2 linked regions of the Homo sapiens genome follow. The protein of the gene in region 2 purifies or fractionates together with the protein of the main gene of each other region. This does not show direct contact. Each region holds a gene or a part of one and is shown on either strand. Other genes may lie near its edges.

Region 1 (3,805 bases), about 77 Mb from region 2:
GACCGCACCACTGTACTCCAGCCTGGGCAACAGAGCAAGACTCCATCTAAAAAAAAAAAAAGAAAAAATTCTGTAGTCTTGCCGTTTTCCTGAATGGCCTGGCTTCCTCCTACCCCTGGCCTCTGCACACACAGTTCCTCTTCTCTCGAAGGTTCTTCTTGGCCTTTCCCCTGAGGAGGCTGGGGGGCTTCCTTTATTAGCCCTGCCTGGCTAGGGTAGGGGGTCAGGATTATAGAATTTGCCTCTTTTCCTCTCCTTCAGGACTTGGCTTGGCTGTGGTATCTTTGGGCTGAAGACTTCCTCGTCCTCAGGGCTGGCCATGGTTCCACCTTTATATCCCCATGATGTCCTCTCTTTTTTTTCTTTTTTTCTTTTTTTGAGACAGTCTTGCTCTGTGCCCAGGCTGGGGTGCAGTAGTGTGATCACAGCTCACTGCAGCCTCGAACTCCTGGACTCAAGCCACCCTCCCACCCCAGCCTCACAAGTAGCTGGGACCGCAGACAAGGGCCACTACACCTGGTTAATTTTTTATTGTTTGTAGAGATGGGGTCTTGCTATGTTGCCCAGGCTGGTTTCGAACTCCTGGGCATGAGGAGTCCTCCCACCTTGGCCTCTCAAAGTGCTGGGATGACAGGAGTGAACCACCGCGCCTAGCCAACATCCTTTCCTTCCTTTGTCCCAACATTGATCTTACTCAGATGTTTACATCTCTCTCCCCAATTGCACTAGGGACAGGAAGGGATGGAGGCTTGCTCCTCAAATACTTGTTAAATGGCTACATGTTTGAATGAATGAATGAATGAAATCCTGCTCTTGAGCCTTGACCTAAATGGCTAAGCAGACTCTCTCCTATTTTTCTTAAATGCTCATCTCTGGGGCAAGTTCCCCACCCTGGTAGGAGTCCCAGGGTCTCTCCCTGAACTTCCTGGGGCCCCCTCTCTCCCCACTACCCCAGCCTGTGTCTTCTCCCAACCTTAACCCTGGGGGCTTTGCTCCCCAATGTCATCCTCTCTGTATCTCTCAGTTCTCTGACTCTCGCCGTTTGTAAGTATCTCTCTCTCAGATGCGTGGCAGCCAGGGTCACAGCCAGGTTCTTTGGGACAAGCCAGGGGTGTATGCCCAGCTCCATGGGGCCTGCAGAGGCTTCAGGGGACACCCATGGAAGAAGACCTGCAGGGCCAATTTATAAACAGAGGAGCAGAGCAGGACCCAGGGCTTGGAATCCATGCTGAGTTACGTTTTTGTTTTTTTTTTTTTTTTTTTGAGAGGGAGTCTCACTTTGTCGCCCAGGCTGGCATGCAGTGGCGCCATCTCGGCTCACTGCAACCTCTGCCTCCTGGGTTCAAGCGATTCTCCTGCCTCAAGTAGCCGGGATTACAGGCATGCTCTACCACGCCCGGCTAATTTTTGTATTTTTAGTAGAGATGGGGTTTCATCATGTTGGCCAGTCTGGTCTAGAACTCCTGACCTCAAGTGATCTGCCCGCCTCTGCCTCCCAAAGTGCTGGGATTGCAGGCATGAGACACTGCGCCCGGTCCTGAGTTCAGTTTTGATTGGGGGGCTTCCGGGATAATATGGGGCCGCTAGGACAGGGACCCTTAGTGTGACTGGAAGGGAATTTCCTGAAGGAATTCATAGCAGAGGTGGAGTGGTGGGAAGGATGGTTTCTGGGGGAGAAGGAGATGCGTGAACCTGGCCAGAAGACAGTGTGTTGTGACAGATGATTGCTGGTGAGGGGGTAACAGTCTCCAAGGTGTAGATGTTGGGGGCTCCAGATACGGCAGGAGGGGCCTGGCCTCTCGGAATCCCCTCAGCCCCATCTCATAGAAACATGTGCTTTCTACCCAGGCTCCATACTCCGGAAGGGAGGCAGGACCCTGTCACTTTCTTGGCCTACTTTGGAAGTTCTCAGTCAGGTATCTCCAGGTGTGGCAGAGGGGCTTTGGCCTGTAGGGGGTGTGGTAATGTGGGTTTTGGAGGCAGAAAGCTTTTCAGGAAAGCCCCCTGGTCCATCACCCCCCTTTCTTTTTTTTTTTTTTGAGATGGAGTCTTGCTTTGTTGCCCACGCTGGAGTGCAGTGGCACGATCCCAACTCACTGCAACTTCCACCTCCCGGGTTCAAGTGATTCTCGTGCCTCAGCCTCCCGAGTAGCTGGGATTACAGATGTACACCACCACACCTGGCTAATTTTTGTATTTTTAGTAGAGACGGGGTTTCACCATGTTCGCCAGGCTGGTCTTGAATGAACCCCTGACCTCAAGTGATTGGCCCTCCTTGGCCTCCCAAAGTGCTGGGATTACAGGTGTGAGCCCCCAGGCCCGGCCTCATCATCACTTCTTCACCCACCCTATTTTGGTAGCTCTCTCTCCACTCGTCCTGTGGAACTGATCCATTCTCGGTCCCATTCCCTTCTCTCTGGGCCAATCTGCACCTAGGTTTGTGGCTTCATGAGTATGGAGGGTCGTGCAGAAAGGGGCCAGGTCTGTAGGAACCTGGGTTCATGCCCTGGAAATTTGCCCATTTAAGATAAGTTAGGGCCGGGTGCGGTGGCTCATGCCTGTAATCCCCAGCACTTTGCACTTCGGGAGACCGAGGCGGGCGGATCACCTGAGGTCAGGAGTTTGACTAGCCTGGCCAACACGGTGAAACCCCATCTCTACTAAAAATACAAAAATTAGCCAGGCGTAGTGGCGGGCGCCTGTAATCCCAACTGCTCGGGAGGCTGAGGCAAGAGAATTGCTTGAACCTAAGAGGTGAAGGTTGCCGTGAGCTGAGATCGTACCATTGCACTCCAGCCTGGGCGACAAGAGTGAAACTCTGTCTCAAAAAAAAAAAGATAAGATAGGTGTCCTGAATAAGATAGGTGAAATGGGTGAGGATGTACTTTATCTTACACGGTCTTAGGGAGTGTCTCAGGCGGTGAACAGAACTCTCTCGCCCCTGAGCTGGGGCCTGGCTGACCCAGAGCTATTTGTGTGCCCACCTGTCACCCTCTTTCAGGACCACCTGCTTCAGGTTGCCAGATTTAGCAAATAAAAATAAGGATGCCCAGCTAAAATTGGATTTCAGACAAGCAAGGACTAATGCAATATTTGGGATGAACTTCTAGCTAAAAGTTACCTGTTGTTGATCTGTAGTTCAGACTGAACTGGAGGTCTTGCATTTTATCTGCCAACCCTACAACTGCTGCCTCTGGGGCGGTGAGATGGATGGGGTTTGGGGAGGGGCCAGAGGTGTGTGTGGCTGACCCTGGAGTTGGGATCAGGGCTCAGTGGAGGCCCCGGGGATGATCTGGAGCGAGTTTGAATCGAGTGGAGCTGATTCACTGAATCTTGGCTTTTTTTTTTTTAATTTGTATTGAAATGAGGTCTCACTCTGTCACCCAGGCTGGAGTGCAGTGGCACAATCTCGGCTCACTGCAGCTTCTCCCTCCCCGGCTCAAGCGATCCTTCTGGCTCAGTCTCCCAAGTAGGTGGGACCACAGGCACACGCCACCGTGCCCGGCTAATTTTTTGTATTTTTGGTGGAGATGGGGTTTCGCCATGTTGCCCAGTTCCTGAGTTCAAGTGATCTCAAAGTGCTGGAATTACAGAAGTGAGCCACTGTACCCAGCCAGCAGGGTCCTTTTTCATTTTTATTTTATTCTATTTTTTGAGACAGTGTCTCACTCTGTTTCCCAGGCTGGAGTGCAGTGGCGTGATCCTACCTCACTGCAACCTCCAACTCCTGGGCTCAATGTGATCCTCCCACCTCAGCCTCTGCACCTAGCTAATTAAAAAAAAATTTTTTTTTTTTAGAGATGGG
Region 2 (3,727 bases):
TCCATAAGGGCAAAGGAACAGATGTCCCCAACCCCAGCCACATCCACAGTGAAGTGATGAAAAAAGTCGATAATCTCCAGGGCACGAGGGCGGAACCAGAAAAGCAGAAACAGCGGGGTGAGGAGCGGGGACAGGAGCTCCTCCAGGAGGGAGACCTGGGGAAGCAGCGGTGAGGCTGAGCAGGGGTCGCTGAGGGGCCCACGCGCGTTATCAGGACCAAGCAGTCCCCAGCGACCCTCGCCAGGGCAAGAAGCCTCCCCACCCAGTCACTCCCTAGACTCCTGGTATAGTCCGTTTGTCTCATGCCCTCTCCCAGACAGACCCTCCGCGCAGACAGACCCTCCGCGCAGACAGACCCCACAACTTCCTCCTCAGCCCGCCGTCGCGCCCACCCTCACCGCTCGGTACTGCAGCAGCTGCGCCATCTGCCGGTAGGCGCGGTCCCTGCCGCCGGGGCCGGGCTCCTCCGGGAGGTAGTGCATGTGGGCCAGGGCTGTCTGCAGCAGGAGCTGCGGCGCACGACCCTGGCACTGCTCTTCCGGAATGAAAGACCTGAAAGGCGGGATCCGTGGGGGGAAGGGGCCTGCGATTAGGAGGACGCGCGGTGGGATGTAGGGCTAGAGGGCCCCAGTGGTGGGAGAGGTAAGGATTCGGGGGGAACCTCACATGGCCCCAGATCAGAGAAACCAACACACACCACCACCCCGGGCATCTGCCGTCGCACCTGGCGACGGTGGCGGTGACCCCGAGCGCGGTCATGGCGGTGAGCACGTGCTCCACGGCTAGCACGTCCTCGTCGTAGACGGTGAGCACAAGCAGCGCGGCGAAGAGTGCACCCGCGAAGAAAACGAGCTGGCGGGCCAGCAGCGTGCGCAGGGGCGCGGGGGGCGCAGCGGTGCGCAGGAAGGCGGCGGCGGGGCGGTAGGCGCGGGCCAGGCGCGCGCGCAGCTCGTGCGGCAGCTCGTTGAAGTGGCGCAGCTGCAAGCGCGCCAGGCGGGACCAGCCGCGCGCCCCCAGCGCGCCAGGCTCGCGCCGCAGCAGCTCCACGTGGCTATAGAAGACGTGCAGAACCTGCCAGGCCAGCACCAGCGGGCTCAGCGCCAGGTTCAGGGCGGCCAGCAGCAGCACTGTGCGCCCCCAGCGCGCTGCTAGGGCGCCCCGCTGGTCGCTGCGCTTGTAGGCGTGCGGCAGCTCCCAGCCCCCGCGGAAGAGCGAGAAGGGACCGCGGAAGAGCAGCAGGTCGACATTGAGCGCCAGGCCGCGGCTGAGGAAAGCCGCACTGCCTCCCCAGGGCAGCGGGCAGCGGGCCGGCAGCAGGCCTTTGTTGGCCAGCGCCACCTGGTAGTTGGTGTAGCGCAGGATGCGGTGGTGGATGTCCAGCTCCGTCAGGGGCCGCGGCTGCACGCACAGGCCCCCGCTCCGCTGCAGTGCCAAGAGGCGGGACTGCACCTCTGCCCAGGGAACCGAGCTCAGCTCCTCCTGAAAGGGGCACTGATGAGAGCCAGCGACCCCCCATTCCTCTCCACAGTGATGCTCAAGCTCCACACCCCTAAGTGTGCGGCCTGAAAACCCGCAAACTGAGTTTGCGATCACAAACTCGCCATGACCAAGCTACATCGTCCCCCTCTCCCACCTTTCTCTTTCTGCCCTCCCTTAACCCTGTCACTAACAAGGGCGCGCCCTACTTCCTTCATCCTCTTCTAAACTGCCCTGTTCATCATCCCTGCCATTCATGTGGCCAGTAGTCATGCACTTCCTGGGGACGCCTCCAGGTGCTGGACCTGGCTTCTCAGCTCCTTAAGGGCCTGAGGCCCCCTCAGTTGTACACACAAAACAGACTGGCTGGCCAGGGGCGGTGGCTCACACCTGTAATCCCAGCACTTTGGGAGGCTGAGGCAGGCAGATCGTCTGAGCTTAGGAGCTCGAGACCAGCCTGGGCAACATGGTGAGACACTGTCTCTACTAAAAATACAAAAAATAGCAGGGCGTGGTGGTGTGCACCTGTGGTTGCAGCTACTGGGGAGCAGAGGCTGCAGTGAGCCAATATCACAGCACTGCACTCCAGCCTGGGTGAAAGACCCAGACCCTGTCTCAAAAGAAACAAAACAAACAAAAAAACAAAAAACCAGAATGTCTGGCAGTTCGTGGGAGAATCTCTCCTTCCCATTTCTAGTGCACCCACCAACTCTGGAACAGAATCCTCCCCACCTTCTGCCTGGGCATGCTTTACACTCCCAGCCCCACCCGACTCCAGGCCATCTTCGGCTCTGTCACCAGAAGCCTTCCCAGGACCTGGGCTATGTCCACATCTGGCAGTGGGGCACTGTCAGATCTCATTTGAAGGCTGCAAACCTCACTTCAGCCCAGTTTCACTCAGCTTTCCCAGTCCAGGTTAGTCAAGTCCCCCAGGCTGGCCTCTCCAGTACATCCCAGTGTCTTCCCTTCCCTTCCCCTGGAAGGAACAGGGGAGGAGGGGAAAGAAGGGAGGAGGAGAACGAGACGGGTGAGCAGTCTCCCGCCAGAGCCAATCCGAGGTCCAGCTTCCGCTCTCACCACCTCTGCTTCCCCGGCCTCCTCCCTCTCCTCTGCTCAGGGGCCTTCTAAGACCTCTCCCCTTGCTGCACATAAAGGCTGTGCAGAGGGCTCCGGACCTCCCAGGGGAGCAAGGGAAGCAAGCTGCAGAAGGCTACTTTCAAGCTGTGCCTCAAAGAAAGAACTTAGATACAGAGGAGGGAGGAGCAGACTCAAGATGGTGAGGAAACAAAGGGCAGAGCATAAGCAGTGGACAGTGACAGGCCAATGCAGTGGCTTCCTGCAATGCGGGGGATGGCTTTGAAGGCTCTGTTTTAGGCTGATGGGTCCATCTCCTCACTGCAGCTTCCAAAAGCTCATGGCTTTTCCCCACCTTCCTGCACTGGGGCTTAGAATGTGCTCCCCTCCCCTCCTGTCCTGCCCTTCCGAAGCCCAACCCAAATTCCTCCAGCTCTGAAAAGCCAGATAACTGCCCTTTCTCTTTTCTCTAATCAATGTTTTTAGCACAAACATGTAACTATATGTCATCTTATATGAGCCATCTAAATAAACTAAACTCCCTTAGGGTAAGGGCCATGCTCTCTAGGTGGTGGTAGCCCCCTCCTGACATTATTCTGGGCCTAGGGCAGGTGTCAATAAGACCTCGCTCTTTCTGCCCTCTTTCCAGTTGGCCCTTCCACCTGTACAGTCCCACTTCTTCCCCTCTCCTCTGCCCACCCTCTCACGGCACCCTCTGCACAGACACAGCCACCCAGCTCACCGGGGGGATGTGCAGGGCCTCCCTGTAAAACACCTGGATGTCCCAGTAGCTGAAGAGGTTGCAGACTGAGCGAAGCAGTTGGACCAGCCAGAAGCCGGCAGCCAGGACCAGGAGGAGGACCAGCAGCGGGCTGGAGCGGATCCTGTATGGGGTTGGGCGGGCAGTGGGGGAGAAAGGTGGGCGCCTGAGAAAGAGGCAGACCAGACTTCGGGAGTGAGGAAAAACCATCATGAGGAGGGGGATCTAGCTAGACCAGCAGCTCTCAAGGTAGAGCCCGGGGCAGGGGGTGGGTGCTGAAGTGGCCTTCACAAATGTGCAAAGTCAAACTTTTTCCAAATAATACTAATGCTTTCTGATGTTTTCATTCTTGTACTCTGAGAGTACAGTGGAGTTTTCCAGAGGCTACAAGACACGTGAACATGTCACATCACACTG

Evidence for each region.
Region 1: the proteins of ATG9B (region 2) and GTF2IRD1 purify together in Homo sapiens (affinity purification with mass spectrometry; one large-scale study listed by BioGRID and IntAct). This does not show direct contact.

The regions. Positions count from the first base shown.
Region 1 is NC_000007.14:74,456,634-74,460,438, forward strand, and holds part of GTF2IRD1 (general transcription factor II-I repeat domain-containing protein 1), read left to right. Parts: intron 1-3,805. UniProt on the Homo sapiens protein: May be a transcription regulator involved in cell-cycle progression and skeletal muscle differentiation. May repress GTF2I transcriptional functions, by preventing its nuclear residency, or by inhibiting its transcriptional activation.
Region 2 is NC_000007.14:151,017,896-151,021,622, forward strand, and holds part of ATG9B (autophagy-related protein 9B), read right to left. Parts: intron 3,435-3,727; coding exon 3,293-3,434; intron 1,480-3,292; coding exon 725-1,479; intron 553-724; coding exon 399-552; intron 156-398; coding exon 1-155. UniProt on the Homo sapiens protein: Phospholipid scramblase involved in autophagy by mediating autophagosomal membrane expansion. Cycles between the preautophagosomal structure/phagophore assembly site (PAS) and the cytoplasmic vesicle pool and supplies membrane for the growing autophagosome.